Linked DNA regions of Homo sapiens. The protein of the gene in region 4 interacts with the protein of the main gene of each other region in a pairwise test. Each region holds a gene or a part of one and is shown on either strand. Other genes may lie near its edges. The genes, in order: MS4A1, CMTM3, C14orf180 and SLC71A2.

Region 1 (8,369 bases), on a different chromosome or scaffold from region 4:
ATGGTATCTCATGGTGGCAACTATACTTCTACAAACCTTAAACAAATATTTGTATAAAATAGTAGTTTATAAAGAAACACATGAGTGCTTTCTCTGTTTTTTTATTTCTTATGGAAACTATCTTTCATATATATATCTGATTATATATATATCTGTCTCATATATGAGAGGTAAATATATTAATCGATTTATGGCATTGTGGGCTGACTGTAATGAAAAGCTTTCGTTCCATGAGAATTCATAAATACATAAAACTCGCCTACGGAGATTGGAGATTCTCGCAATTTTGCCTTATCATTAAAATAAATTGTTCACAATGACTTAGTGCCCAATGCACAGTTATGCTCAAAGACTAGTTGGTAGATTAGTAGGGGTTATGGACCACATTAGCCGCAATATGATAACAATAAGATTTTACATTTGCTGGTGTCCAAATCAGCATGAATGTTAAAATAGAGACTCAGGTGATCACTCAGTACCGCATTTAATTACTCACACTAACTCCTGCAAATATTTTTTTATTTTTAAAGGCACCCCTGTTTTCATGTCCATCCACTGAATAAGATCTCACAGCCTTTATGGGTTTTGGTTTGAATAGACTTTTAAGTCCACTCGTACCATCATGTACTGAGAAGTTTAAAAACTGCCTCACTGTTGTTACCTCATCTTCATTCTCTTCCACTCAAAATAGTTTTGCATTTTTATCCCTTCTGGCCTCCTGTGCACCTATCTCCGAGGAAGAGTGCTCTTACTTCCCTTCCCTCTGTGCTTTTCAGCCCATCTCAGTCCAACCAAGCTGTTAGCCCTTCCAAGAAATTATTTCTTCTTTGCACCTTCAGTCTCCCAATTTCTGGCAATATGTAGCAGACAGAGTTAGTCCCAGCTCTCTTGCTTGCTCCTCTTGTGGTCTCTCTGTAAGTTTAAGGTAATAGTTACCTTCCCCATTTCAAAGTATCATTTTGAGAATATGAGATAAGTTGCATTTGTTAAGGTGCTAAATACTCCTTTTATGACTAAAATGTACTTCAGTGTCCCTGAATCCCAAAGTCCTCTTCTTTTAATCTAGCAATGTCCTTGCCCACTGCCCAGGCTCACTTTTTCTTCACCGCAGCTGCTTCAAAGCTTTGCTACCCACTCTCTTCCCCCACCTCCTCTCCACCCACTCACTTCTCAATGCTTGGCAACTAGTTTCCGCCAGTCAGTGGACTGAAACTGGTCTTTGAGGACTGTGCTGTGAAGTCAGTGGTCTTTTCTCAGGCCTCGTGTCTCAGATTGTTTTATTTGTTTCTCCTGCCACCCAGGCTTAGATAGTTGGGACCACATTTCACTTTAGCTCCATCATCTCTCAGTCCATCTTCATCTTGGCTGTTGGTCAGTCAGTGGCCAAGTCATGCCATTTCTACCTCTGCAATACATTTTGCATGTGGGTCTTTTTTCTATATCCAGAGTCACCTGTGAGTTTCTCATTTCCATTCATGCTTTTCTGCCTTCAGTCTTTCTCTTTTCTAATCCATTGTCCACAAGGCTGCTACATCAAGCTCCCGATCACTGTTTTGAGTGATGCTCTTCCTGAGCCTGAACTCCTTTGCTGGCCTGTCATTACCTGCTGGAGAAACCCTTCATCTAACCCCTCAAGGCCTTTGGAATTCAGCCCTGTATGACTTCCCAAGCTCATATCCCACTACCGCCACCAGAGCCACTGGTCTATACATGTCCTCTACCTTCTTTCCTGAATCTTCTCAACTTTGAAGTGTTCCTTCTCCCTCCCTCTTTACTTTCAATCAAACTCTGCATTAGATATGCACATCACCTGAGGGCGTTCCTGCTCTCCTTGCCTGATTGCAAGGAATTCTTCAGAGCTCCTAGCTCTTTGCTTTCCTTACTAGACATCAACTACTTTCTTCGGAGAATCCTGTATCCTACTAGACTTGCATAGGGAACCTGTTTTCTATGTACTATGAGCTCAGTTACATTAAGCTGAACATCAAACTCAGCTACTTCCTCAGGGAAGCTTAACAAGTGCTCACAATGGCCAGGTGCAGTGGCTCACACCTGTAATCCCAGCACTTTGGGAAGCCGAGGCAGGTGGATCCCCTGAGGTCGGGAGCTCGAGACCAGCCTGGCCAACATGGAGAAACCTTGTCTCCACTAAAAAATGAACAAACAAACAAAACACACACACAAAAATGCTCACAATGCTGGATTAAACATTTCTTTCCACCGGATTCTCAGTGAGATTAAGCCATTTTATGGGAAACAGGGAAAGGGAATCACTTATATACTGGATTCAGAAAACAGTAATGGCATGATTAAAATTAATCCTTGTTTTCCTTCATTAGAGCTCCCCCACATCTGCAGCGCCCCCTCTTACTCTTGGTTTCCCATGTGATAGATTTGAGGCAGGATTTCATGCTCAACTTGGTGTCCACAAATCCCCTCCAGAAAATGTTAGCCTGTAAAGCCACCTATACTTCTAGGTATATTTACATTTAATGTAGACAAAAGCATTTACAGGAAGACAAATGGAGTTTTTTTCATTATGCCTATGACTGATTATTTTCTCATTTGGTATTGGGAAGTCCTAAGGGATTCAGGATTTTAGTTCCAATTTTCCTAATGTAATGGGTACCATTGCCCCCATTTTATAGATGAGGAAGCTGAGGCTTTAGAGGTTTAGTAATTTGCCCAAGGTTATATTGTTTGTTAGTGGTAGAGCTCCAGTTTGAACCCAATGGTTTAGAAACCATGATTTAATATATATGCTGCAATCTACTACTTTTGTGGAATGATTCACAGTTGACTGCATAGGGTAATTGTTGAGAGGGAGACTGATTAGAGGAGTGAGTGGGCAGCAAGCCTTGATATCGTCACCCCTCCTTAAGTCATAGAACTATTAGGAAGTCTGACTAGGGAAACTCTAGAATTAAGATCAAGAACCTCCAGTCTTCAAAACCATTCTATACCTTATCCATCACCTCCTTTAAGTCATTTAAAGAAAGCAAATTGATTCCTTACCTGAGTCTCCAAGGCCTCAAATCTCAAGGGCTGATTTGGATGCTAGCTGCGGAGTTCAGTGGGTGCAGTTTGTTTCTCAAGCACACTGGGAGGGTGAGTGGTGTAGTCCAGGCCTGAAGATGAAATCGCTGATAGACATCAGGTGACAGGAAATCAGTAGCTTCTGCTACCTTGGGCTTCGCTCCAATTACTTTGGTTTAACACTTACCATAGCTGAAGGAGGTGCAAAAAAAGTTTCTGCCTTACCAGGTTTCACTTCTTGAAAAAGACCCCAGGGGACTGCCTGGCATGCTCATGCTACCTTAATTAGAAGAACTTCTGCAGCCCCCACCCTATAAGCAGGTGTGGATGGTAGGTCCCTGAGGACAAGAAAGATTCTAGAAGTTGGTCAAAGATGGGCCGTTAGCACTGACTTTTACCTTCTGGCTTCACTTTTAGGGCTGAGTAGGTGGGCAGGAGGCATCCATGCAGAGATTCAAGAATCACTGAGGCTGTACACTTGGCAGCACTATACTTAGGGGTCCCCAAATATTGTCCTCATTGGCTCACACTTAAGTTTCTTATGAACCATGTATATATCTTGTGTCAGATTTAGCAGAAATGGCCTAAAATTATACTTTAGTGCCATAGTACATGTACCCAGCCACTCAAAGCAAGAATTAGCCTCCATATTTGGAAATATAAATTGAAATAGCACTTTTACCTCTGAACCCACCTTTTTCTTCTGTCTGTCAAGTTCCCTTGTGTCCCCTCTCTTTTTAGTCTAGTCTGGAGCTGCAGGGTCATCAAGCACAGTACTAGATCAAGTAGGGAAATGGAAGAAGTTGGTAGTGTCAGGAGAGTCTAAATATTTGGGATGTGAATCAAAGTTTTGCCCAAAGATAATGTCCTCTCTCTCCCCCTACAATATTCAACTTTTATGTTCATATGTGGGATTTTTAATTACATTTTTATTTCCCTGTTCATTGCTTCATTTTATTAGAGACACAGAGCTATAGTTAGGTAATTATTTGTTTATTTAATCTAAAGGGATGAAATATGGCAGGCAGCTCTGTTGCCTAATTCGAGGTTCATTCCTGTCTCTCTCTTTCATCTCTTCTCTCTTTCTCTTTCTGCCTCTCTTTTTAAATTTAAGATAGTTTGGAACCATAGGGTTAGATCCACTGGGTAGAAGTAGTTCTGGGGAGGCTGATTGTGGTGTGATATTTAAAAAGATGCCACTCTAAAAAAAAAAATTGTTGGAGCCGTTCATTAGGGGAACTGGCTACCATTTCAATAGAGAATTTACTTCTTCAAGAATACTCAAGTAAAGTCATGCAGTCACCTCTCAGAGATGCTGTAGAGTGAAGGAGAGTGGGAACAGAAGATCCATCATCCATTTAACATTCTAATTGAGGGTCTATGCATATCTGCTGAAATGCTTGAGTGATTGGTGATGGGAGGACAATTACCTAGGGTCTGAGTTGTGGATGATTGTGAAACCTGAGGTTTGAGTCCTGGATGGTGGGGTGGTTAGAGGCATGTGCCTTCATTTTAGTTGGCATGGGAACAGGGTCAGGACTTGGCAAATGTATGGCAGCAAAGGGGCTTGAGTTGTGGCAGCACAACCTGGTCTTTTGCATCCTTTTCTCTGTTTGAGCCCTGTATTTCCCCAGTCAGTCTCAGGTTGTTTGCTACTTTGTGGCCAATGAGATAACTTAGGTGGCTCTATGTATGATTCTTCCCAAATAAACTTGAATTTGAATTTGTATGAATGCATAAACATTTACCTTGTCTTTGCTCATTTGAATGATCAACATTTTAGTGCTTGAGTGTGTTGAAATTCTCACTACAATTTGGACTTGTCAATAGCATCTTATTTGATGTATCACCATCACTCTTCCCCCAAGGTTTGAGAATATTTTATTAGGTTGATAACATATTTAAAATATTTCTCTTTGAATTAAGCCTATTTTCATTATCTAGTGACCTTGCTTCCAAAAGACAATCTTAAAGTCTACATAAAAGTATGCCAACTTTTATTTAGTTAGTATTTTCCTGATGTGAATTTCCTTTTTATTCTCTGCACGTCCCAGCACTCCAATTTTTTTAATCATTGCCTTCTATATGAAAACTGTGTGCTACATCATAATTATTTGTGTCCTTGCCTTAATCAGCCATTGTCTCCTTGTCCCTTGAAGGCAGGGTCAGTTTTTGTGATTGCTGTGTCCCTGGCAGTGCTGAGAAGGAATGGTTCTGTTTGGCTTTTTCTTTCACCCAGGTGATTGTCCCCAGGCTCTCCAATATTAGGAAGTAACATTATGCCACGTTCTCAACTTCTCAGCAAGGCCCTGGCACCCAGAATTATCTGCTGTTGGAGGGTTCTGGTGTCAAAGAATTGGTAAGGGAGACATAGGGCTCGTCAGAGGTGAGGCTAAAGATCTAATTGCAAATAGAACTTGGTTACAGGTCAGAAAATCCCATTGTTGCACTTATAAATAATTCATAGTAAGGAAAATGTAAATTGAAATACTTAAGAACTTTATAGTTGATAGGGTCTTCTTTCTCTTCTAAGGGACTATACATTTGGAACAGCTAGGAAGGTAATATTAGTTAAATAATTCCTTTTATGTCAAGAATTGTCCACATATAAGCCTTACCACACATATAATATTGATTCTGTTTTATAATTGTGGAAACTAAATTTCAGGAAATGGAGGAAGCCATTCCCAAGTTGGAAAGCTGGTAAATGGTAAAATAAGTGATGTTTAGAGCAAGAAAATCTCAATTATAAATTTCAAAAACTAGCATTTACTAAGTGATTTTTAAGTTCCAGGCACTGATAAACTCACTTTCCATGTTTCATTTAAGGTTCACAGTAAACCCATTAGGTAGGTATTACTATTATTGCATTCTAGTCTAAAAATTTTAAGCCCGCAAAGATTAATTTGTTCAAGTGACACAGCTTTAAATGGCAAAACATTTATTATTATTCGTTTTAAGATATAAAAATGTCTGATGTACTCCCATGTGCAGATTACTGGATCACTCCCTTTGCTTTTGTGACGTGGGAATATAGCTGAAGAAAAAAATGCAATTATGACCTCATAGTTATTGAAAAGAGTTTTTTCTCTTATGTACCAATAAATATGCTATCATTGGAGATGAAGTGTTACTGATATGTAACGGTAACATTTTTCTGCAGGTGTTGACTATAAAAATATCATTATGTGATAAAAAATTTAATGAAAATAAGATGTTGTTTTGCTTTCTCAATTATATTTCTCAAAAAATTAAATAATATGTATGAAAAAGTACTTATAACAGTGAGACAAGAAACCATGTGCCCACAGCCATGATTAGAGATACAAGAGTGTCACTGATACCTTTGAAAGCTCTCAGGTTATCCTTCCCCAAGCCACCCTCTTTATCAGAGCTCACAATTATGCTGAATTTGGTGTTTATCACTCTCTTCCTTTTCATTGTATTTTGACTTTCCACATATGCTTACATTTCACACGGACATATTGCTTAGTTTTTGTGTTTTCTTTTTTTTTTTAATTTATTTATTTTTTATTGATAATTCTTGGGTGTTTCTCACAGAGGGGGATTTGGCAGGGTCATAGGACAATAGTGGAGGGAAGGTCAGCAGATAAACAAGTGAACAAAGGTCTCTGGTTTTCCTAGGCAGAGGACCCCGCGGCCTTCCGCAGTGTTTGTGTCCCTGGGTACTTGAGATTAGGGAGTGGTGATGACTCTTAACGAGCATGCTGCCTTCAAGCATCTGTTTAACAAAGCACACCTTGCACCGCCCTTAATCCATTGAACCCTGAGTGGACAGAGCACATGTTTCAGAGAGCACAGCGTTGGGGGTAAGGTCACAGATCAACAGGATCCCAAGGCAGAAGTTTTCTTAGTACAGAACAAAATGAAAAGTCTCCCATGTCTACTTCTTTCTACACAGACACGGCAACCATCCGATTTCTCAATCTTTTCCCCACCTTTCCCGCCTTTCTATTCCACAAAGCCGCCATTGTCATCCTGGCCCGTTCTCAATGAGCTGTTGGGCACACCTCCCAGACGGGGTGGTGGCCGGGCAGAGGGGCTCCTCACTTCCCAGTAGGGGCGGCTGGGCAGAGGCGCCCCTCACCTCCCGGGTGGGGCGGCTGGCCGGGCGGGGGGCTGACCCCCCCACCTCCCTCCCGGACTGGGCGGCTGGCCTGGCGGGGGGCTGACCCCCCCACCTCCCTCCCGGATGGGGCGGCTGGCCGGGCAGAGGGGCTCCTCACTTCCCAGTAGGAGCGGCCGGGCAGAGGCGCCCCTCACCTCCCGGACGGGGCGGCTGGCCGGGCGGGGGGCTGACCCCCCACCTCCCTCCCGGATGGGGCGGCTGGCCTGGCGGGGGACTGACCCCCCCACCTCCCTCCCGGACGGGGTGGCTGCCGGGAGACGCTCCTCACTTCCCAGACGGGGTGGCTGCCGGGCGGAGAGGCTCCTCACTTCTCAGACGGGGCGGCTGCCGGGCGGAGGGGCTCCTCACTTCTCAGATGGGGCGGCCGGGCAGAGATGCTCCTCACCACCCAGACGGGGTCGCGGCCGGGCAGAGGTGCTCCTCACATCCCAGACGGGTCGGCGGGGCAGAGGCGCTCCCACATCTCAGACGATGGGCGGCCGGGCAGAGACGCTCCTCACTTCCTAGATGTGATGGCGGCTGGGAAGAGGTGCTCCTCACTTCCTAGATGGGATGGCGTCCGGGCGGAGACGCTCCTCACTTTCCAGACTGGGCAGCCAGGCAGAGGGGCTCCTCACATCCCAGACGATGGGCGGCCAGGCAGAGACGCTCCTCACTTCCCAGACGGGATGGCAGCCGGGCAGAGGCTGCAATCTCGGCACTTCGGGAGGCCAAGGCAGGCGGCTGGGAGGTGGAGGTTGTAGCGAGCCGAGATCACGCCACTGCACTCCAGCCTGGGCACCATTGAGCACTGAGTGAACGAGATTCCGTCTGCAATCCCGGCACCTCGGGAGGCCGAGGCTGGCGGATCACTTGCGGTTAGGGGCTGGAGACCGGCCTGGCCAACACAGCGAAACCCCGTCTCCACCAAAACCAGTCAGGCGTGGCGGCGCGAGCCTGCAATCGCAGGCACTCGGCAGGCTGAGTCAGGAGAATCAGGCAGGGAGGTTGCAGTAAGCCGAGATGGCAGCAGTACAGTCCAGCTTCGGCTCAGCATGAGAGGGAGACTGCGGGGAGAGGGAGAGGGAGAGGGAGAGAGCAGTTTTTGTGTTTTCTAATCATTATTTAGGTAGAATTAATAAGATGTTCTTTTGTGACTTGCTTTCTTTACTCAACATTAAATGTGTATAATTCATCTTTGTTG
Region 2 (7,397 bases), on a different chromosome or scaffold from region 4:
CAAGGTGAAATCTACATTCAGTGACGAGCACACGTCTTTGGTGTTGGGTGTTACTTTTTGGAAACTGGTTCCTGCCTCGCTTTGATTTCCCTCCGCAGGGCACTGAGTGGAGTGCATGTGCTTGGAAGGCTGGGGCTTTCTGACTAGGTCCTGTCAGGGAGCTGGGGTGGGGTAAGGTGAGGACTCAGGGCCATGCCCAGGACTGGGAGGCAGCATAGGTGTGAGCCTGGGCCATGCTGGGTTTTTTTTTTTTGTAGGGGCGGGTGCGGACAGGGTCTCTCTCTCTCTCACCCAGGATGGAGTGCAGTGGCCTGATCACAGCTCACTGCAGCCTCGACCTCCCCGGGCTCAGGTGATCCTCCCACCTCAGCCTCCCAAGTAGCTGGGATTTCAGGCACACACCACCATGCCCGGCTAATTTTTGTATATTTTGCCGAGATGAGGTTTTGCCATGTTGCCCAAGCTGGGGTCAAATTTCTGGGCTCAAGCAATCCACCTGCCTGGGCCTCTCAAAGTGCTAGGATTACAGGTGTGAGCCACTGTGCTTGGCCTGGGATTCTAATCTGGCTCTGCCACTTCCCAGCTGCGGGACTGTGAGCAGTTGGCTTCCCCTGCTGGAACCTCCTCTATCCTGACCACAGGGCCTGGCTCAGAGGAGCACTGGACAAGGAACATGAAAAGGCTCTGACTTCACCTCAAACTCCTTCCCCGCAGGGTCTCTCATTCATCACTTTTATCTGCTATGTGGCGTCCTCAGCATCTGCCTTCCTCACAGCGCCTCTGCTGGAGTTCCTGCTGGCCTTGTACTTCCTCTTTGCTGATGCCATGCAGCTGAATGACAAGTGGCAGGGCTTGTGCTGGCCCATGATGGTGAGGACAGGGGCCCCAGGAGGGAGGGGTGCCCTGCACAAAGTGGCCAGATGAGGAGTCCAGAGTCGTGCACTTGGGCCCTTATCCTTTCTCTAGTGTGCTGGAGTTTGCAGTTGGTTAGAACTGGATGGAGAGACCCAGCTTCAGATCATCCCAGCTCCACTACTCAGCAGCCCTGTGACCTCAAGTGGGCTGTGGTGCCTCTAGAGCAGGTCTGTGAGGCAGGGAACCCGGAGAGGGGTCTCTGGCCACCAGGTGGCGCCGGTGCTCCCCACCGGGCCTACAGGAATGAGCTGCCGCCACAGGAATTCAAGCCATTTCCACGTGGGCAGGACAGGTTAACTGAGGACTTGCAGGGCTTACCCAGACTTCAGCCATCGGCAACCCTGACCTCGTTTTATCACCTGTGAGGGCCCAGACCCCAGTGGACCTCGCTGAATGAAATGTGTCCTAGAGAAAGGGCAGCAAAGGCTCAACTTGAACCCTTGTCTCTTGACTTCATATCCAGCATCTGCTGCCTCAGGAGGGCTGCACCCTCTGTGTCCCCATCTTAGGGACGGATAAGCAGAAACTGTGGTCCATGAATGGATCGGCCACAAGAGTGTGACAAAGCCGAGGCCCAGAGCCAGATCTCCCCAATGGAGAGCGGGAAGGGAGCAGGTGGGGGTGTTTCCAACTTCTGCTTCCACCGCATCGCAGGGCAGGCTGCACCCTGATCCACACAGTTTTTTGCCCAGAGCTTAGGACAGCAGCCCCGCTGGACCCGGGATAGGGCAGTGTCAGCTGCTGGCAAGGCAGCAGAGGCACCTCGGGGGTGGGACAAGGGCCTAGGCATGTGGGTGGGGCCAGGATGGGATAGGAGCCCTCAGGTGCTAGGCCTGGGGCTGGGAACACGACCAGGCTGCCAGGCCTCCTCCCCATGCTGTGCTCAGCTCCAGGGGCTCAGGGCAGCATGCCCCTCTCTCCCCAGGACTTCCTGCGCTGTGTCACCGCGGCCCTCATCTACTTTGCTATCTCCATCACGGCCATCGCCAAGTACTCGGATGGGGCTTCCAAAGCCGCTGGGGTGAGCAGCCGCCCCACCCCTCTGGAAACTGCAGATGCCCCTCTAGCCCCTCATTTAGGGTGGGACCTGGGGCAGAGCCTTTCCCTGCTGGGGCCCCCCTGGGGTCTCATGTGGGTCCCGATGATGATTCCAAAGTCCTCTCATTAAAGACTGACTCTACCCGGGGTTTTGAAAGGCTGTTTGTCAAACCAAGTTCACAGCTCATTTTCCCACTTCCGTTACTCACAGGGGTCTGTGCCTGACACTCGGGCTGTTTGTCCAAGCAGATCTGAAATGGGCCGTGAGGCTGGGGCAGCAGCCTCCCGGAGCAGGGAGTCAGCCCTGTGATGCATCCCATCCACCCTGTCCACAGGTGTTTGGCTTCTTTGCTACCATCGTGTTTGCAACTGATTTCTACCTGATCTTTAACGACGTGGCCAAATTCCTCAAACAAGGGGACTCTGCAGATGAGACCACAGCCCACAAGACAGAAGGTAAGCGGCTGCCCTGATCACCCCAGCAGTGCTGCAACAGGGGCCTGCCCTCCCTCGGGGATGCCAGCTAGTTTGAGGCTGGGGTGGGATCATTTCCTCTCTCCCCATGGCAGGAAGTGTTTTCACAGCCCATTCTCACCTACCCTCATGCAGCACTGATCCAAAGCCAGTCCCATTCGCCTCGTGCACCCTCACCCCAGCCTTTCTAGGAGGGGCAAGCAGTGGGCATGGCTGAGCCTCAGGCCAGGCCGGCAAGTCTCCCTGGACGACCCCCCTGGGCAGCCAGTCACTCTCGGGCACCTGTCCACCTGGGATCCAGAGTGGCCATCCCCCAAACCCAGCCCCTCTGCTGTCTTACCCATCCAGGCCTGTCCTGGGAAGCTCAGAGCCCAGAAAGGAGTCAGACCCAGAAACCGTGGCAAGGGACAGATGATGTGTCCCGTACCAGGGGAGGGGCCAGATGGGGCAGCAATGACGACAGTAAAACAGGAGCCGATAGAGGGAGGGATACAGTAGCTGAAAGCAGGCCCACGCTGGGTGTCAGCTGGCCCGAGGCTCTGGAGGGGACACTAGAGCTGGGTACTGACAGATGGCAGTAGAGGAGTGTGCAGGCAGAAGAGACCAGGCCGGTGTAGGGAAGAAGGCTGAGAGCAGAGACAGCAGGCGCTTCTGCCTGGGGAGATGCTTCTCTGGACCAGGCGGATGTGCCCCTGTGCTGGCAGTGCCTGTGGCTGGACAGGTAGACAAGGGCAGCTCTGGAAGGGCCTGCAGGCCCCACCCTGTGGTTGGGATCTTCCCTAGGCAGGACCAGTAGGTTAGGCTTAAGAGCCACTGGTTTCCTAACAGCCAGGTGCTGGGGCCATGGGGATTTGTGAATCCCAGAAACCGTCCTTCTGCTGAAAATGAATGCCACTCATCCCATCCCGTCCCTTGGCAAATATTAGGTTAGAGCTCCCAGGCGGTTTCCTCAGGCTCTGCAACCTGCTCCCAGTTGCCCGCAGCAAGTGATCCCAGACAACCAGCCCAGGGACCAATTAGTAAACGTCAGTGGAAACTTGGGTGGTTTTATTTTGTTTTTTTTGTTTTACTATTTGGAGAGTTTCACATATGTAACAATTATTTTGCTGTAAAATTATTCTTGACTTATATGTTAGAATTGAATATAGCAGCCAGGCACAGTGGCTCACGCCTGTAATCTCAACACTTTGGGAGGCCGAGACGGGTGGATCACTTGAGGTCAGGAGTTTGAGACCAGCCTGGCCAACACGGTGAAACCCCATCTCTACTAAAAATACAAAAATCAGCCAGGCATGGTGGTGCCCGCCTGTAATCCCAGCTACTTGGGAGGCTGAGGCAGGAGAATCACCTATGGGAGGCAGAGGTTGCAGTGACCTGAGATCAAGACATCGCACTCCAGCCTGGGCGACAGAGTGAGACTCCATCTCGGGGGGAAAAAATTGAATATAGCAAAACCCACAAAATCTGACGAGTGCAGCCCAGGAACCGGAGTGAGGGACAGAGCTGGGGTTTAGGGACTAGGCTGCCCACACCCCAGCCCTGAGCCCAGCCATGAGCCAGCGACAGCTCATGGGGACTGACTGGGGTTCTGAGAGACAGAGGCTGGCCAGGGAGGGGATGAGCATCAGGAAGTAGCAACCAGCACTGGGGTGGGGTTGGGGGTTAGTGACTCTGGTGCTTTTCCTTCTGGGGTGGAGGTTCCAGAAGGCTCTACAGAGCTCCGAGACAGAACTGGGATTTCAGGAACCCTCGAGGTACACCTCATAGGCAGGCCCTTACCATTATAAAATTGTTTCTGATTACAATATTAAACAAGGATTGGGGGAGGGGGATTGAAGATATAAAATGGCTAAAAAGAGGCTTGCTGATTTTCCAGTATATTTTAGTTTGGGGGACAAGAAAATAGCTGTCCTCACCTTGTCCTGCTGAACCTGGGGGTGGGGGTAGAGCTGGAATGCAGAGGTACAGCCCTGACCCACCCAGCTGAGAAAAGCCCAGGGAGACTCCGGAGGGGCTGGGCCTGAGGAAGGGGCACCTGGGCTTCAGTCTTGGGGTGGAAACACCCCCACCTGCACCCGCACCCACACCCTGGAGGTGCAAGTGGCTTCTGCGGCCGGGCACGGTGGCTCACGCCTGTTACCCCAGCACTTTGGGAGGCTGAGGTGGGTAGATCACCTGAGGTCAGGAGTTCAAGACCAGCCTGGTGAAAGCCCATCTCTACTAAAAGTACAAAAATTAGCCAGGTGTGGTGGCACACGCTTATAATCCCAGCTACTCGGGAGGGAGGAAGTTGCAGTGAGTCGAGATCCCGCCATTGCACTCCAGCCTGGGTGATGAGCAAGACTCTGTCTCAAAGACAAAAAACAACAACAAAAAAAAAAGAGAGAGAGAAAGTGGCTGCTGCCTGTGGAGGGCCTCAGGCCCGCGGCCTGCCCTGATGCCAGCGATCACTGGGAACGGTAGAGTCAGCTGCAGGAGGCCTGCACCCAGGCTCCTGCCAGCAACCCAGCTGTGCTTCCCCAGAGACCGTTCCCAGGCACCGCTGCCCTGAGCCTCCTGCCAAGCATCCTCTCTGCTTTCCTTTCAGAAGAGAATTCCGACTCGGACTCTGACTGAAGGCCTGGCGGGTGCCTTGGCAACCTGAGCCACACAGGCCTCCACCCCTGCGCCTCACAGGGGTCGCTGGCGTTGGAGCGGAGGCCTGGACTTCTGAGTTGCAGAGGGGGCTGCGGACACAGCAGGCCCCCTACAGCCTCAGGTTCTGCCTGAGCCCAGCCTACCAGGCTTGCCCCTCAGCTCAGCACTGTTGACCACGCTGCGTATGAGGGCATCTTGGGTATCCCACTCCTTCTCCCCATTTCTGTCCCACAGGCCTTCAGCCCTTTAACGTCTCTGCCAAAAACCAGCACAAGGAGACAAAGCAGAGCCTTGTCTGTATCTGGGCAGCAGGTGTTCCATGCTGCTAGGTGGCGGGGGTCGGGGGTCTTCTGTTTCACTAACAGGAACAAAGACAGAAACCATGACAGGGCTGCCCCGCCAGGCCCCGGTGGGTTTGTCTGCACTTGGTGCTCCTGCCCACACCAGCCACTTTGGTGACAATGACCCTTCCAAGAATCTTTGGTTCAAGGAGCACCAGTTCCCTCTTCATTCTTGAAGCAGGGAGAAATTGACCTTTGCCTTGTCGCCCAGGAAGTGGGGCTCGGCACCCATAACTAACACCTCCCACCCTTGGAAACCATGTCTTCTGGGGGTGAGATGACCATTCTGGGTCTAAGACTGTTTCAAAGAAGAGCTCATAGACTGACTGGTCCAGAAGACAGAGGGTACAACAGTGGCATCACAGTGACAGTGTCATGGGGAGCTGGGCGGGCCCAGCCAAACCCTCCTTCTTCCTAGAGCCCAGCCAGCAGGCAGGAGTTCCTGGACCCTCAGGACAGTGAACTTCCAGACCTCAGGGCAGGTCTATGGGCCACTGCAGGAGATGAGACCAGCCTTCTGTGTTCACCTAACGATTTATACTGTGTATCTGTCTTTGATGGAATTTTGTAACTTTTTATATTTTTTTATGCAAAAGCAGCTTCTTAACAGATGGCATTTTCTGTGACTCTAGGCCTCACAAAAGAGCCAGAGTTCTGGACCCATGTTTGGAGCATTTGTAGCCTTATTCTCTTGCGTGTGAATCTCTTACCCTGAAAAAAAGCCATAATGAATTAAGCCAGACTGACCACTTGCTTGGAGTGTGTGCTTGAAAAAACCAGAGCAATACTGTTGGGTATTGTATCAGGCTTCAGTACAAACTGGTAACACCAATGTGGATCCTGACAGCTTTCAGTTTTAGCAAAAATACACGTGAAATCTGACTACCATTTAATCCTTTATTTCCCTAACCTTTTTGGCACCAGGGACCAGTTTCGTGGAAGACAGTTTTTCCATGGACTGGGGGTTGGCGGGTGGGTTGGGGTGAGGGTGGGAGGGGATGGTTTCAGGATGAGACTGTTCTATCTCAGATCATCAGGCATTAGATTCTCATAAGGAGCACACAACCTAGATCCGTAGCATGCACAGTTTACAATAGGATTCGCATTCCTATGAGAACCTAATCCCACTGCCAATCTGACAGGAGGCAGAGCTCAGGCGGTAATGCCGTTGCTTGCCACCCACCTCCTGCTGTGCAGCCTGGCTCCTAACAGGTCCCATGGTACCAGTCCACTGCCCAGGGGTTGGGGACCCCTGCTCTAGTTCTCACACTACCCTGTTTTATAAACAAAGAAACTGAGACAGAGGTCGGGTAACTGGCCCAGGGCCCTCTCACTTACACATCAGGATAGTGTCTCACGGCAGCCTCAGGCAGCCGGAACCCTGGGGCTCTCCTGGTTTGGAAGCTGGTTGCATAACAGCCCAGAGGACTACAGCCCTGGAGGACCCGGGTCCGCATTCTTATCCAGGCTGATGGGAAAAGACAAGACATTCCACCCAAACTGTCACACACCACATGTGCTGAAAATGGGTAAGAAAGCTGGGTGTGCAGGAGTGGAGAGGCCCCTGGTGGAATTTACATTCCACCTTGTAAGCCCTGGCAAAGCGGCAAAGCTGGTGTCACAGAGGCCTTGTTCCACCCTGAGGATCGTGGCTCTGTTCAACCTCCACACAGCAGCCCTATTTCAGGAACTGGATCCGTAACGTTTAAGGGGCAGAGGAGGCCACTCAGAGTGAGGAGAGACAACGACATCCTTACACGTCCATTTATTAAACAAGTTCCTTCATGACAATTTAATACAATAGTTATTAACGATTAGTGTTGAGAAAATTATTTCCCTCTACATACAAAAATACAGATTTGAACACTATGAAAAAGATCAAGACAAGTACCATGAAAAACTGGTCCTTCAAATGAAAGGGGGAAAATTGAGGGCAATGTGAGGCTTTGCCTGCTGTCGGGGACAAATCAATAGCAGCAAAGCTTTGGGGCC
Region 3 (8,682 bases), on a different chromosome or scaffold from region 4:
CCCTGAGCCCTGAGGTCCCCTCTCCAGAGATGCACCTTCACGTGGGCCACGCTCTGCTCCCAGGCAGCCTCCCTGAGCTCCGCGGTCCCCTCTCCAGAGATGCACCTTCACGTGGGCCATGCTCTGCTCCCAGACAGCCTCCCTGAGCCCTGCCATCCCCTCCCTAACTGGGCTTCACGCTTCCCCTTCTGGAAGAGAGGTCTGGCTCAAGTCCTGGGCTCTGTCCTTCTTTGGCTCTGTGACCTCGGGTAAGTGGTGTGACCTCCCTGGGCCTCATTTTCCCCAGTGGAAGCAGGGAAGGAGTGGCTCTGGCATGCTCGGCAGGTGGGGGCGGGGAGGCCTGGGGCCTCTGGCAGGGACAGTGTGTAACTGGAGGCCTCGTGACAGATGGGAGATAAAGGGCGGAAAATAGCTTCAGAGCCTGGACCTGTAAGTGTCCCGCTAGGCCCGCTGCTGGGGAGGGCGCGTCCACCCGAGGGGACTCTACCCCCACTCTGGGAACAGGAACCCCATGGCGCCTCCCTTGGTGCTGGGGGGCTGGGGGGTTCTTACCAGCTCCTCTACTGAGAGGGGGCACCGAGCTCCCTGGCGGAGGGGAAACTGAGGCCCAGAGAGGGAGAACAGCCTGCCAGGTTTCAGAGCCTGGGTTGGGACAGAGGCGGGAGTCAGGGCCCGGAGCTCCCAGTTGTGGGCATGACCAGCCCGTACTGCTGGTGGGAGGTGGGGCCATGAGGGCTGAGGCCCAGGACCTTGGTCTGGGGTGTGACCCTCCAACAGTCTTTGGGGGTCTAGCCCAGTACCCCAAAGACCCCACCTCATCTTGAAGCTGCTGAGAGACGTGAGGGCACTGATGGAGCCCAGCGGCCGTGGCAGTGCCGAGTCCCTCCCCCTCGAGACCAGCCTGCAGTGGGGCGTGGGGGCGGGCCAGTGGTTCTTGCCTGGTTCTGTGGCTTGGATAACGCCAAGCTCTGGGGCCCAGCCACTGCTGCTCCCTCCCACTCCTGCCCCGTCCTCCAGGACGCCGCCCGCTGGCTTCCCGCCTCCTCCCAGGCTGCTGCCTCTGCCTGGCCCGTGCCGCCCGCCCTTTTGCCCACAGCCCACCTCCTGATGTTTCTCTGTCCTCCCTGAGGGTTCCTCGGGGCGGGCAGTGCCCCCCATGCAGCAGCTGGCTCGTGAGAAATCCTGACATCCCACCCACCCCACATGGGAGGTCCTTCCTCGGCTCTGAGCGTGCGGCCCCACACTCCCGGCTCACCCCTCGCCTGGCACTGCCCTTCCTCGGCTCTGAGCGTGCGGCCCCACACTCCCGGCTCACCCCTCGCCTGGCACTGCACCCATTCACACGGCAGCCTCACAGCCTTCCAGGGGCAGAGGGTCCCGGGGCCTGAGCGAGTGCAGGCTGGGGCCAGGCTCCCTGTTTCCCTGTTCCAGGTGCAGCCTCCCCCAGGGCAACTCACTTGGGAGCTGGAGACAGGGGGCCAGGCTCCTGGGAAGCCAGAGACCTCCCTGGGAGAAGCTGGAGACTCACAGCCCCCACCCCCACCACTTACACACACACACATACATACTCTCTCTCTCTCTCTCTCTCTCTCTCTGCCCCTGCCCACCTGGGCTCCTGCTGGTGCTGTACCTCCGGGGTGGCTCAGGCCTGATCAGCCCCGAGATCCACTGGCGGTCACAGCCTCGCTGTCGCAGGGTGTGAACCAGAGCTGTTGCGGCTCACAACCAGCTGAGAAGTTTCCATTACGGCGACACTGAGCAGTGGCCTCAGCGGCCCTGAGGGCCCCGGCTGACTTGCTGCTCTCGGGACAGCCCGGTCCATGGGGAGGCCGTCAACCACGGGCTTGGTGGCCCCAGGAGGAGCTGGGCCTCCTCAGTCTCCCAGCACCTTAGTAGTTTGGCCACAGGCCTAACCCAATGGCCCTGGGGCTGCAGATGCAGGTTGTGCCTTCTTCCGGTGGAAGAAGACTGGGACCATGGACACTGCCTCGCTGGCCTTTCCTCTGCAGGGCGGAGGCAGAACACAGCCAGGCGGGGTGGCTGGGCTCCTGGGAAAAGCCTTGGCTCCCAGCCCAACGCTCACCACTGGAACCACGCTGGCAGCTCCCCAGACAACATGCGTTCTCGACTTAAGTAAGAGGGAGAACTTGTGGGGAGGCCCCTGGCTGGGCTGACCGCCCACTGGGCTTGCTCAGGTGCCTGCAGGCCCTACCAGGTAGGAACAGGAGCAGGAGCTGCCTGGTGGCCCCCTGAGGCCCCTCTCCATGCCTAGATGGGCCCTCACATCCCGAGGTGCAGTTAGGGCTCGAGGTAGCAGCAGTACCGGGTGATGGCTGCTCATCTGCTGGGTGCAGGGGCCACCCTAGGCCTCGAGAGCTCCAGACAGACAGGGCGGGGGACCCCCCCAGGCCCTTCCTCCCATATGTGGAATGGGGGCTGTTTGCCAACTGTCCAGGGCACTGCAAAGCTCAGTAGTGCCCAAGAAATGGCGTGGCGTCCAGTGCTGGGTGGGGGTCCCATGGCCACACAGGGCAGGACAGGGATTCCTTCTGACTGACGGCTCAGAAAAGAGCCAGTTCTCAGGGATTCCCAAACACTGAGAACTAGGCTTCAGTTACTGGAGTAACGAATCCATTCCTGCTAGGCTGGGCCTGCGTAGACTTGCCCTCGGAGGATGCCCCCCACCAAGGCCCTTCAGGGAAGGCTGGCTGGGTTCATGCCTGGCACGGCTGCCTGCATTCCCCTGAGAGTGCAGCCCCTTCTCCCACTGCCCAGGCTGTTTCGCGCAACATCAGGTGCCCTTTGGAAGCTCCTGTGTGGCCAGGAGCACCCCCGCTGCTAAGTTTGAAGTGGCCGTGTTCCCTGCTTCCCCCAGAGGCGGCCTGGCCTCAGTGTGGACACAGGGCCGGCCTGGGACTGTCTCCGTTTTAGGGAAACCATCAGTCCCAGGAGAAGGGGGAAGGGTGGCCACTCTGGAGCTTGTTCAGGTCACTCAGGATCATCAGTGTGTGCTCTGCCCAGTCTCTGCCCACACCTGCTGCCCAGCTGGGGCAGGTTCCCCACCTGCACCTGCCTTTGGCAATCTCTCCGCTCTGCCCAGTCTCTGCCCACACCTGCTGCCCAGCTGGGGCAGGTTCCCCACCTGCACCTGCCTTTGGCAATCTCTCCGCTCTGGCATCTTCATACCCAAGCAGGAAGTGAGCCCCCTCTCCCTGGGGCTGGAACTCACCTGGTTCCCTCCTGGCTCCCCGAGGGACAGAAACAGGCTCTTCGGGATCTCCCTGTGGGGCACAGTCCAGTGAGGTCCTGGACCCTCTTGGCCGGCAGCACCCCTCCCAGGCCCTTGAGAGTTGAGCCTCGGGCAGAACTGCAGGGCACACAGGTGAACGGGCCAGGCCCGCCCAGGCCTCCTTCCCGAGGGCTCTGATCTGGAGGCGCCACCGCCCGCTGGCAGGGCCGGGTCTGTTGTGGCCTTCGTCCCGTCTCCAGCCCTCTCTGCTGGATCGCAAAGCTGGGCCAGCTGGCAGCGGCCAGGCTATAATTACCTCTCCCCTTTGGCAGAAATAGCAGTGAACCCGAGGACAGGCCGCTGGCCCCGGAGCAGAAGGGGGTGGCTGTTTCCCAGGCCCCCGGTGGACAACAGACCATGATTTCAGATAAGACCAGAGTTTGCTGCTGTTCCTACCCCTCCCGGCCCAAATGTGCCCCCTCCCAGGTCAATTCCAGAGCTGTGCAGCTCTTGGAAAAACCTATGGATTGGAATTCGGGGCAGAGTGGGAGAGGGAGGGCACTGTGGGGCTGCGGGAGGTGAGGTGATCACAGAGTCCAGCCTCCAATAAGACCCTGACCCAGCATGGGGCCTCCGTGGTGGCGAGAGTGCCCGCCCTGCCCCAGGCCCCTGTGCCCCTGTGAGTCCTGACCTGGGGTTGCCAGAGGGAGAGGCAAAGAATGGGTCCCAAGCTGCCGTTTTGGGGCACACTGGCCGACCCTCGATATTGCCCTGGCAGGAAGGGGCAATGTATGGGTCAGTGAGCGATGGCAGGGGTGAGGGATCAGCCTTTCTCAGGGTCTGTCCTGGGTGGGCGTCCAACTGCCCTGCCTGGCGCTGCTGAGTCTGCCCCTCATTTGTAGGTGAAAGTGCAGCTCAGAGAGTTGAGGCACCCTGTCCAGAGTCACACAGCCCGGAGGTGGTAGCCTGGCTCAGGCTTGGTGGCCCGTCCTCGCCAGCCCCCCCGTCTGCTGGTGCATGTAAAGGCAGGTCTGAAAGAGGCTGGTGAGGGCATCACTGGCGCAGGGCACCACCACATGTGGGCAGACCCCTGCCTGGTTTGTGGGGCTTTGACCTGTTTCAGGGGACTGCTGGAGGAGGTGTGGAGAGACCCGTGTTTCTCCATTAGGAATGGGGGTGCATCTCCCTTGGGTAAAGCTACAGGACCCCTGGGAGCCCAGGGTGTGCCAGGCTGGGGGACAGTGTGCACAGAGGGTGACTGCTCAGGGCCAGCCGTGGGGCTGCATGGACACAGAGTCCTGGAACCCACCGTCAGAGCATGAGCAACGCAGCCACTGGGATGGGGTTCAGCAGACCGGCCCTCCCCTCACTGCCGTCTTCAGTACAGGGCATGGGGGAGCAAACTTTTCTCTTACAGGGCCATATGGCACACAGTGCGCTCTGTGTCTACACAAACGGGGTGGGCCAGATTGGCAGGAGGGCCTTGGCTCGCTGACGCTTGTTCCAGGGAGAGCACTGAGGAAGGCTGGGTGGTCCTGCTGGCAGTCTGGCTTCCTGGGAAGAGTGAGGTCCTGTAGCCAGACAAGACCCTCTCCCGCCTGTGCCCAATCTGGGCGCTTATCCTTGGCTTCCCAGGGCTGGAGCTGCTCCTCCCAGATTTCAGAGGTCAGGCTGCACTGCCCGAGGTCGGGGGGCTCCGGGACAACTCCTTCCTGACCCTTCTCATTGACAGAGGGGAGGGAACGGTCAGCCCACAGACCTTGGGTGCCGCCCCCTCTCTGTGCTCCCTGGAAAGGCGATGCGGGCTGACCCTGTGGACATTCGCTCTGGGTAATTTATTAGTGAGCTGATGGCTCGGCTCAGGGCTCAGGTCCCAGCGGGGTCATATTTCCGGCCGTATCTGATAGGGCTCGGCTGCACCCTCCTCGCCTCCGTCCATTGCGCCTCACTCCAGCCTGGGCTCTGCAGGGCAAGATAAGGCTGGCCCAGGGGAGTGCTGAGCTGCCGGGTCCGCGGAGGGTCCCCAGTGCCTGTGCCAGGCAGTGCCAGGGAAGAGCCCAGTTGTGTCAGGCCTGCCTGCAGCCGGCAGGTGGGCACATGTGCCCACGGGCAGTGGTGCCAATGACGTGGTGCCCAGGTTTGGGCCCAGCTCTGTCACTGTTCAGCCAGGTGACCTCCGCCACACCCTCATCTCTCCCCGGGAGCTGGGAATGATCGGATGCCCCACCCTCCCCAGATCTTTGTGGTGCACCCACCCTGAGCAGTGCCCCGGGAACACAGCAACTAAGGCCAGCTGTCATTCAGCGGGAGGGCGGAGCATGTCCAGTGGCTGGGCACTCCTGAGCGCTGGGAAAGTCCAGCGAGCTGGCTGGGCTGGGCTGTTTCCTTGGGGTGGTCCTGGAAGGTGGCCGGGGTGGAGTAGGGCGGCACGTGGGAGTGGAGGCTGCAGGGGCTGGAGATTGTGGCTACTCTGGTCATGGCCACGTGGTGCTGGCCTAGACTCCCAGCTCTCCCTGGACCATGGTCTGGCTGGAGTGCGGAGAGCCCTGGGCCTCAGCATGGCCTCATACATGGCTCCAGGCAGGGTCGGGGGTGGGGCTGGAGGGTGTGGAGGCCCTAGGCTGACCTGGGCCAGAGAAGAAAGGGCCGGTGGGTGGGGGAGATGGGGGTGGGGTCCACAGCTGGTTGAAGCAGAAGGACCCCAGGCACAAGAGAGGCCAGCGTTGGCCCAGGGGGTGGGAGTTGGCCGTGGCCCTCTTGCGCAGAGGCCTGGAGGCTGGCCCTTCCCCTGTCTGGCATACAGCCCGGGGGGAAATTCGTGCAGGCTGGCCGACTGCAGCACCAGGGCTTGTGGTGGAAATGGGTCCAAAGGTTCTCCAGGCGTCTCCGGGGCTCAGGGCTGCACCCCTGTCAGCTGAGGCTGTCCTGAGCCCAGCTCCCTCTGTGGTAGTGAAAACGCCCAGCTGAGGCTGTCCTGAGCCCAGCTCTCTCTGCTGCAGTGGGAATGCCCAGCTGAGGCTGTCCTGAGCCCAGCTCCCTCTGTGGCAGTGAAAACACCCAGCTGAGGCTGTCCTGAGCCCAGCTCTCTCTGCTGTAGTGGGAACACCCAGCTGAGGCTGTCCTGAGCCCAGCTCCCTCTGTAGCAGGAGGAACGCCGGGCTGAGGCTGTCCTGATCCCAGCTCCCTCTGCCGTAGGGGGAACGCCCAGCTGAGGCTGTCTTGAGCCCAGCTCCCTCTGCTGTCGTGGGAACGCCCAGCTAAGGCCGTCCTGAGCCCAGCTCCCTCTGGGGCAGTGAAAATGCAGCTGAGGCTGTCCTGATCCCAGCTCCCTCTGCTACAGTGGGAATGCATCTTTGTAGCTCTCGTCTCTGCAGTGGGTCGTCAGCTGCTTCATGACCACAGGAAACCCCCTGAGAGGGCTTGGTTGAGGGTCTCCAGCTGGGTGGGGACGGTGGCTGATGGGGTCATGAGAGGCCCCATAAACCATGACCACGGTGAGAAGGCCCTGGAGAGGACTACGGGAGAGGGCAGGCAGGGGTGGCGGTGGTGGGTGAGTCCAGGGCCGGTGGAGGCCGCATGAGCAGGTCTTTGCCACTGGCACACTCAGAGCCAGTGCTAGGTCAGGAGGGACAAGGAGTGAAGTCCTCACAGGACTTGCCACGTGGTGGTCACAGGTGGGCTTGGCCCAGGCACCCTGGGGGTTGGTGGGAGTGAAGCCTGAGGGTGGGGTCCAGGAGAAGAGGAGAGGAAATGAGGGAAATGAGGGAGGAGTGTGGGTTTGGGGTTAGAGGGGCTGACGCATGCTCTGGGTGAGAGCCGGAACCTGGGCTGGGGCTCCACAGGCACAGGCTGCTCTGCACAGGGGCTGGTGGGGGGACTTCCCACCAGGCAGAGCTGTCCATGGGAGGAACAGCCGACAGTAAGGTAGTGAGTTCCCCATCACTGGAGGCAAGCAAAGGAGGATTTTTGCCTTTGGGGACTCTTCAGGGCCCCATAGACCACGGGTGGGGAGGGAGGTGGGAGGACGGGGGAGCAGACTCTGGGCATATGGGGGTGACCTGTGACGCTCTGGCCCCTGTGTCTGCTCACTGGCCCCTGACATACGGCTGCCTGGAGAGATGCTGCTCTTCCGGCTTGCAGATACAGCTAGAGTCCTGCCCCAGGTCACGGCCCGGAGTGGGAGGTCCAGGCCCCTACCATGGAGCCTGCAGCTTGTCATTCTCAGACTGAGGCAGGGCCCTTTGACAGGGCCATGTATGGTCACCCCGTCGCCAAGTCAGAGCCCTTATTAAGAATACAGGACGCATGGGCACTGCCCCCAGCCCTGAGTGTGGTGGGGGCCCTGGGTGATGACCACACTGGTTTCCACGAGTGAGAACCATAGGCTGCTGGGGCCCCCCCAGCTCCCATCAGCTGAGATAATGGGGGCCTCTGGGCCCCGCGGAACACTAACCAAAGCGGCCCCTTTCCTCCTCCTCTATTATTCATGACCTCCAAGAGGCTGTAAAAGTCCTTTTTTCTCTACAGGAGCCATCGATACGATGACAAATTTTATCTATGAAGTTGGTCCCTCCCTGAAAGCCAGTTGGCTGTCGGGGCTGTACATAAGCCATAACCGAGCCGGGGCCCCCCGAGCTGCCTGCCACAGCTGTTTTTCCAGCAGCATCTTAGGGGCTGGCTGGAGGGGCCGGGAGATCCTTCCACCACCCCGCCTGACCTGCTGAAGGTTCTGGGCTCTGAGGCGAGGCCGTGTGGGGGTCTGTCTGGGCTTCAGTGGGGCGACTGCAGGCGTGGGCCCCGGGGGCAGCCGGTCAGCCCAGGTTCCCACTGTGGGCGCCATCCCTGGTCTCCGGGCCTGAGGACCCACCGCAGGGACCTGGCTGCGGCCGGCCGGGGCCGAGCATTCACACGTCACACACAGCCTCATTCTCACACCAGAAGCGTGCATTCTCTGTGGCGCAGGCAAGCCACACATCTGTGGACATGTGCGCCGAACTGTGAGGGCCACGCTGTCCGTGTGCAAAAGTGCTACGTGCTGTAAAATAAAAATAAAACCCTAAGGCCCCAACCGACTGAACAGGCTCCTCTTGGCCAAAGGGACTCCAGAGAAACCGGAACAACTGAGTTCCCAGTCATGATGGGACAGGAGGGCAGACGTGCCTCGCTCTCCCCCTTCCCTGCGGGAGTTCAGGCAGGGCTGACCAGTAGTGACGTTAACCTAGTGATCAGAGGACTGTGACCCTAAGACTCGAATTATAAACAGGACCGAAGGCCGCCAGCCCAGGGTCAAGTCATGCACCCCACACGCCACTGTGACCTGGTGTATCGGTTAAAAGACTTCTTAATCTTCACCGAAAACATTCCTTTCTGATGACTGCACATTTATAGACAAAGCTTTACTTCTTTAACTAATTGCAAATGAAATAATCTCTGGCCCCGCTGACGACCTGTCA
Region 4 (7,713 bases):
TTGCCAGGGGTTGGTGGTGGAGGGAGAGATAAACAGGCATAGCATAAGGGATTTTTGCAGTGAAAATTCACTGTGTGATACTGTAAGGGTTGATACATGTTATCATGTCATCATACGTTTGTCCAAACCCATAGAATGTACAACACTAAGCATGAACCCTAATGTAAACTGTGGACTTTATGTTAAGATAATTTGTCAATGTAGGTTCATCAGTTGTAAAAATTTCCCACCCTCGTGGGAGATGTTGATAGTGGAGGAGGCTATGCATGTATGGGGATAGGGGATATATGGGAAATCTCTATATCTTACTCTCAATTTTGCTGTGAACCTAAAACTGTTCTAGAAAAATAGTCTATTTAAAAAAAAAAAAAAAAAAAACAGGCTGGGCACAGTGGCTCACGCCTGTAATCCCAGCATTTTGGGAGACCGAGGCGGGTGGATCACTTGAGGTCAGGAGTTCGAGACCAACCTGGCCAACACGGTGAAACCCTGTCTCTACTAAAAATACAAAAATTGGCTGGGCATGGTAGTGCACGCCTGTAATCCCAGCTACTCGGGAGGCTGAGACAGGAGAATCGCTTGAACTCAGAAGGTAGAGGTTGCAGTGAGCCAAGATCGTGCCATTGCACTCCAGCCTGGTGGACAAGAGCAAAACTCCGTCTCAAAAAAAAAAAAAGATAAATTATGTTTCTGCTAATTCTGGTTAATTCTCAAGAAAAAAAAATTTCCACAGTAATTATCTTACTATAAATCATTGCATTAAAGGTGCCCTGTTTACTAATTATATGCCAGCACCTACATTTGTAACTAGAAGCAAGTTCACATGTTTTTTCCTCTGCAGTGGTTTCCTCAAAATATCTTTAGACAAATCTCCATCTTTGATTTTCCTGGTATTGAAAGGCTACTAGCCACTCACTACTCACCTGCCTGAGATAGAGAAAAAAACTTGAATACTGTCCAGCTTCAGGAAGGTATGAAAGAAACACGGTGATGCAGATTAGTAAGACAGTAGAATCTTTTCCAACTTTCTTCAACGACTGAGAATAAGCAGAAAGAACACACTTAAAATGCCAATACACATTAATGTTGCCAATGTTCTGGGACATCAGCTTCATTATTTTGATCTATTAAGATGAATAACAAAAGTCAAATGGTTAATAAAAGGAAGTTCTATCACCATCTTTCTGAGGAAGTTACAAGTCTTAATTTCAGAGGTATATATTTCAAATCATATAGCTAAAAAAAAAAGCAAAAAAATAAACCCACAAAACACACTTACTCATCTTTGTTAACACACTGATTAAAATCCCTGAACAGATCCCGAACTTCCTATAAACAGAACCTGGAAATATATTCCTACAGAACCTTTTAAGAAAATCACTTCTCTCAATTCATAATGTAACTTCTTTAAAGCCATATTCAGTACAGAGCGTTTCCGTATAGGTAAATTCACTCTATTCTTCAAAGTGTTCATGTTCAACTTTTATATCTGGTAGACAAATAAGTACGCTCCAGCCATAAGGTCAAACTGGTAAGAACTTGTTGAATGTTACAACCTTGTTGAAAAATCCTTCTTACATACATTGGATTGTTGAATAGAACAAAATGGTAAGTTAATACCAAAGGAGTGGAAAGTGCTACAGAGCTTCTAGCTCATCAGACCATAGCTTTTATGTAATTAATAAGCAAAAGCAGCTAATGTTGTTGAGACTTTGCTGGGCAACAGACACTAGGCTAGTTAATTTACACACATTAACAGTAATCCCCACGATTGCCCGGAAAAGTAAGCCACAGTAGCTCTACTTCACAGAGGAGCTTTGATGCATAACTTGATCACTACAAAGGAAGGTGGGAAGCCTAACTGGCTGGCTCCCAACCCCACTACTGGCTTCCTTCTCTAAATATTTCTTTTGGTGTCTGACATTGTGACAATAATAGAACAGGCAGGATCCCTAGGTCATGCCCTCAGGGGGTATTTTAGAAAAAGTAATTTCTGATTGATTACATGAATTTTTCTGAAAGGTAAACTTGGGGGACGAAAAGCAGAAACCAAACTGCTGGTTCTTTTTTTGTCTACAAACTTTTTTTTTCCCCAAGAACAATTTCAAACCAGGTAGGGTAGAGAGAAGGTGAGAGATAAGATATGTTTTCCAGTGACACACCACCTTCCCATGCCAAAAAAGAAGGGGGTGGAAAAGGAGAGGAAAGGGAGGGAGGTAGAGAGGGAGAGAGAGACATATTATAGAAAACAATACTCAATCTGTAACAAACAAATTAAACGTCTCTGGTCAAAATTAAAATAACTCATTCAAACCAAAGGCATTTATCCTTTTTGAGTTAAAATGAGTGAAAATGACCACTTCAAATGACCACTTTCACTTATTTTGTTTAAAAAGGATGAAAACAACCATGCAAAAAGAAACTCTCTTCCCAAACTCTCACCAAGAATTAACTAGACATTTTCTCTCTCTTCGTTTATGACATGCTTAAGTACCAATTCTATATATTTCTTAATACAAAGACTAACTCAATCCCTTACTTGCAATTAATTTTTTCTATTTTTACTAAAGAAATAAGTCAACAACTGCTAGGATCCTTGAGGCTGCACATACATACTTTCATTTGCTTGGCTTAGAAAGACATTTAGGAAAGTAAATATTTCCATATTTTTATTTACCGCAAAAGGGTCTGCTTGTTTCCAAGAAATCTGAGCTCCCCAGGAAACCGGTCTCATTTTCTCAGGCAGAGATTCTGGAACAGCCACTAAGATGAAGCAGATGTCCAGAAGAGCCACCACTGTGGCCACCAGCACAACGAGGCTGTCTCCGTAACTGGCAGAAAGATATGCTCCAATGGCCGGGCTGCTGACAAGACTAGCCGCAAAGGTGGCTGAGACCTGTGGGAAAGCACACTCTCACCCAGGGTCCCATAGGTGAACACCTCTGGGGAAAGCATATCCTTACCCAGGTCTGCCTGCTGCAGGTGCACACCTTCAGGAAAGCACACTCAACCAGGGTCCCACAGGTGCATACCTGCAGCCATGCTTCCCTGGCTTTAAGTAAGACAAAAGAAATGTGTTGCATATAAATTTTAAGAATGAAAGAGAATTAAAGTGATTTAAGAATGTGTTCATAAACTATTAACTGGAGATACCCTGCAGAGCTACAAGAGTAAAAAAGGATTATCTTATTACAAACAAAAATTGTAAAAACCTTCCCCACAAATAAAACATTAGCTCTTTGGTCTTCTTTAACTGGGGACCGGGGATGTGAGATGGTATGAAAAGAATTCCTGCAGGGCTGATGATAAAACTTACAAACTACTCAAGTACTGTGCTTGATTTAATCTTCTAAAAACACTGCACTGTTTGAACATTTTATCATTTGGTGGTCATTTCATTAGCACTGCCTGGGGTCAGGGGGAACCCTCTGCTATTCTTAGAAAAAAACTATTAACAACAACAAAGAATTTGTTGAGGTGGAAGTTGAAGCTTTTTGACTAGACAGCTGTAGATTTCTGTCTCTCTGTCACCACCTGACCCTATCCAGTATAGAGACCACAGAGCCAGCTAAGCACACCCACAACCTGAAGCCACCTTGAGCCCCTTCACAGTGCACTCCTATAAGCATGTGGAATGTCCACTTTATTTTAGAACACAATCTGGATGGTCAGATGCTTATCGGGCAAACTCCAAATTATAACCACACTAAATGTCAAATGCATATCTATAAGTTAGCTTTTTAAACTTCTAATGGATTTTATTAAAAATCCCAAAATTTCTGGCAATAAAAAATTCTTTTTCATCCATCATCTCCCAACTGAATTAAAAAACACAGTATATCTGAAATTAGTATTATACTAAAAGTACTATAAAAGCTAAAACTCAAGTATTTTTGGAGGGGAAAAAAGAATGTGGAAAATTCCAATGTGGGGAATAGGAATCCTTTGTTCAATATTTACTGAGAATCTACTATGTACCAGATGAAGAAGACAAAGCTCTTGCCCTCAGGTTTTCCCACTTTATTCAAGAATATCAGGGCAACCAAATAACTGCATTATAAACTGCAACGACAAGCAAACAGTTATGGGAACATTCCTACACTCTTCTCAGGTGTTAAGGGGGCACTGCTGCAGCATCTTCAGGTGTTAAAGGGTCTATGGCCTCATGAAACTCTATGCAAAATGTGTCTATCTTAAAGCCTAAAGTAGCCTACTTGCTTAGTCTGTGTTTTTATCTAAACTCCTCTTTCACTTAACATTCAATACAACTCTGATGAATAAATCTAAAGAATGACTTCCCCACAACAAACTCTTAGTAAGTGTTAACTCACTTATTAACATGACTAATCATTGCCGTAGCCCTGAAAGAATTACCACTTTCTTGGTTTACTGAAGAAGTCTGAGTAAGGAAGGTGTACACATTTTTATACTGTTCTTTAATGGGTCTCAAAATGCTCCTTAGAACTTGACTGACACGTTCTGTAATTAATTGGCAATAAATTCTCCTATATCTAGAAGATAGGTAGACTGCAATCCAGGCAGCCTTGCATGCTGAGTTGCTTCTGCTGGCTGGGAGCACACTTCAGCTAAGTGCCGTCTCAGTCTGGATGTGTGCGCTCACTGATTGCTCTCAATGCCCCTGTGAGTAGATATTAACCCTAACTGCCATTATACAATGAGGAGCTGAGCTGGAGAGGGTAATTAAGTCACAGGCGCTTCTGGTTAGAACTCTCTTAAATCTTTCCTGAAAGCACTACTGCTCAGCACAACAGCTGTGTGAAGGGTTTCCCAGCTGAAAGCGAGAAACAAAAATCAAATATTGCAGAAAAATGAGTATCTCAACAGGTATTTCCCATGCTGTAGAAGAAAGCTGTCCCTCACTACTCTGTTGGCCAAGCCTTATGGGCACAACTTGAACAACCTACCTTCTTGTTTTTGTTTTTTCTTTTCTTTTTTTTGGCAGGGCGGGGGGAGGTTGTTAATTTTTGGAGTTTTGGGGGACATTTTTTTTTTTGAGGCGGGTCTGACCGTCGCCAGCCTGGAGTGTAGTGGCGCGATCTTGGCTCACTGCAACCTCTGCCTCCTGGGTTCAAGCAATTCTCCTGCCTCAGCCTCCCAGGTAGCTGAGATTACAAGCGCACACCACCACGCTCGGCTAATTTTTGTATTTTAGTAGAGACGGGGTTTCACCATGTTGGCCAGGATGGTCTCGATTTCTTGACCTCATGATCCGCCCCCACCTCAGCCTCTCAAAGTGCTGAGATTACAGGCGTGAGCCACCGCACCCGGCCTATTTTTGTTTTTGGTGTTCCTGAGTGAGCTCCAAATCTTGTCTTCTTCGAAGCTTTCCTATCAGCTTCTATCTTTGTCCTCCTCCATCACGACTCTGAAGATGCCCCTTTTTAGGGCATGACATGAGAGGGACATTCAGGAGTGGAGGGAAGAAGCAAGGAGAGAGAGAGAGGGAAGGTAGAAGAGTCAGAGGGAAGTGGGGTTGAAAGAGTAGTTTTCAAACTACTGATGTCTAAAGTCAACAAGTTAAAAATTGTTGTGTTTTGTGGAATAGTAGTAACCCATTTATATGCCCATCATTGATTCAGGAAGTTATTCATTCAGTCAGCAATGAATGAGAACTTACTCTACTCCAGGAAGTAGATTTAAAAGACCCAGGAAAAGGAGATAAATAACCTAAGTTTCTGGCATTCAATCTCCCTCCAACCTATTCCCCACAACCTAGCCAGATCATCTTTCTTCTTCCACTTTCTTATTCTGAATATTTTCAAATACAGAGGAAGACGGGAGAAGGGTACCAAGCATACTTCCATGTCTCACAGGTTCAGGCATGGAACACACATGCCCACACATGCACATCCACATGCTATGCTATCTTTTCCCCTGAAACATCTGAAAGTAACTGGCAGAGTCCTGACACTGATGTAAAACGCTTCAGCTATCTTCTAACAAGTCTTTCTTCTACATAATCATAATGCCATTATCATGCCTGAGAAAATCAGAAACACTGTCAGGTTTTAATTATCAGAAAAAAAGGTCTCCTATAACTTTTGTTATTCAGCAACTATGGATTTGATGAATGAGTGAATGTAGTCCTTTTCTACATACCATGTTCCAAATGTATGTCCAAAACACACAACCACTAATAGAGTTAACAATGGATTAACATTGCTGAGGTTCAGCACCTCTCCAAATTAGGTGCACAAAGAGCTTGTGCAACTTGACTGCTTAACGCTCCTCCGGGGATCAGATAACAAGAAACAAATCAAACTAATTTTTTAAAAAATTCAAATGTTCAATTGTAATCCCCAATGTTGAAGGTGGGGCCTGGTGGGAGGTGATTGGATCATGGGGGTAGTTTCTCATGAATGGCTTAGCACCACCTTCCTTGGTTGTTAATAGTAAGTGAGTTCTTGTGAGATCTGGCCGTTTAAAAGTGTGTAGCACCTCCCCCTTCACTCTCTCTTCCTCCTGCTCCAGTCATGTGAAGATGCCTGCTCTGGCTCTGCCTTCCATCATCATGAGTAAAAGCTCCCTGAGGCCTCCCCAGAAGCAGAAGCCTCTATGCCTCCTTTATAGCCTGCAGAACTGTGAGACAATTAAACCTCTTTTCTTTATAAATTACCCAGTCTCAGATATTTCTTTACAGCAGTGCAAGAAAGGACTAATAAACTCACTTTCCAGTAAATTTCTAATACAATGTTAATTACTATTCTGGTTAAAAAATATATATAGTCTATTATCTTACCCATCCATAAGCTGTACTTCGCTCGTGCTCCTGAGTGACATCAGCTACATAGGCAAATATAACAGAAAACGTGACCGAGAAGACTCCAGACACAGAAATCATCGCAAAATACCACCTATAAAAAGATTATTTTAATGACCCAAGGGAAAGGGAGTGTATGTTCACTTTCATTACCTGAGCCAAAGACATCATGTAAAGATTACGCACCAAGAAATAAGTATACTTGTATATGTATGTATACTTAAATATATCAAAAAAAATTTAAGTTAAGACAGGAAGAAGTAGAAACATTCTAATTTCATCATTGTTCAAAGGGGGTCAGTACATGCCCCCTAAAAAAACAAAAGAAGAGGAAAAACAAAGAATAAGGGGATTAGGTAAAAGTTATATTTTTAAAGGTAGCCAACAGACAGAAAAAAAACTTCTCAAATATCCTAGCTGTAAGTAAGGAAAAGACATACAACAAATGATTTGAAAAGATCTACATAAAAGCAGAAGTCATAATGAAAAATATTAGTGTACTTAAGACTAAAAATTTATATCATGTGATAGATGCTTTTTTTAAAAACCCAGTTTAAAATTAACAAAGAAAAACCTTATAGAACAAAAAGTGGGGTTTACTCCAGGATAGAAAAATATTTTAATATTTAAAAATCTATTAATATAATTATTCATTTTAGTAGCTCTAAAGAGAAAAGGTGGGCGGATCACGAGGTCAGGAGATTGAGACCATCCTGGCTAACATGGTGAAACCCTGTCTCTACTAAAAATGCAAAAACTTAGCCGGGCGTGGTGGTGGGCGCCTGTAGTCCCAGCTACTCAGGAGGCTGAGGCAGGAGAATGGTGTGAACCCGGGAGGCGGAGCTTGCAGTGAGCCAAGATCGCGCCACTGCACTCCAGCCTGGGCGACAGAGAGAGACTCCGTCTCAAAAAAAAAAATAAGAGAAAAGGCA

Evidence for each region.
Region 1: the proteins of SLC71A2 (region 4) and MS4A1 interact in binary tests that used the Homo sapiens proteins (3 or more experiments, as listed by UniProt).
Region 2: the proteins of SLC71A2 (region 4) and CMTM3 interact in binary tests that used the Homo sapiens proteins (3 or more experiments, as listed by UniProt).
Region 3: the proteins of SLC71A2 (region 4) and C14orf180 interact in binary tests that used the Homo sapiens proteins (3 or more experiments, as listed by UniProt).

Annotation. Positions count from the first base shown.
Region 1 is NC_000011.10:60,450,592-60,458,960, reverse strand, and holds the start of MS4A1 (B-lymphocyte antigen CD20), read right to left. Parts: upstream 3,115-8,369; 5' UTR 3,016-3,114; intron 1-3,015. UniProt on the Homo sapiens protein: B-lymphocyte-specific membrane protein that plays a role in the regulation of cellular calcium influx necessary for the development, differentiation, and activation of B-lymphocytes.
Region 2 is NC_000016.10:66,607,595-66,614,991, forward strand, and holds the end of CMTM3 (CKLF-like MARVEL transmembrane domain-containing protein 3), read left to right. Parts: intron 1-714; coding exon 715-870; intron 871-1,840; coding exon 1,841-1,936; intron 1,937-2,164; coding exon of another isoform or gene 2,165-2,263; exon of another isoform or gene 2,264-2,288; coding exon 2,289-2,409; intron 2,410-5,014; coding exon 5,015-5,043; 3' UTR 5,044-6,293; downstream 6,294-7,397.
Region 3 is NC_000014.9:104,574,551-104,583,232, reverse strand, and holds the start of C14orf180 (nutritionally-regulated adipose and cardiac enriched protein homolog), read right to left. Parts: upstream 3,470-8,682; 5' UTR 3,230-3,469; intron 1,974-3,229; exon of another isoform or gene 1,608-1,973; intron 1-1,607.
Region 4 is NC_000009.12:94,440,147-94,447,859, reverse strand, and holds part of SLC71A2 (hippocampus abundant transcript-like protein 1), read right to left. Parts: intron 6,876-7,713; coding exon 6,761-6,875; intron 2,897-6,760; coding exon 2,678-2,896; intron 1,038-2,677; coding exon 924-1,037; intron 1-923.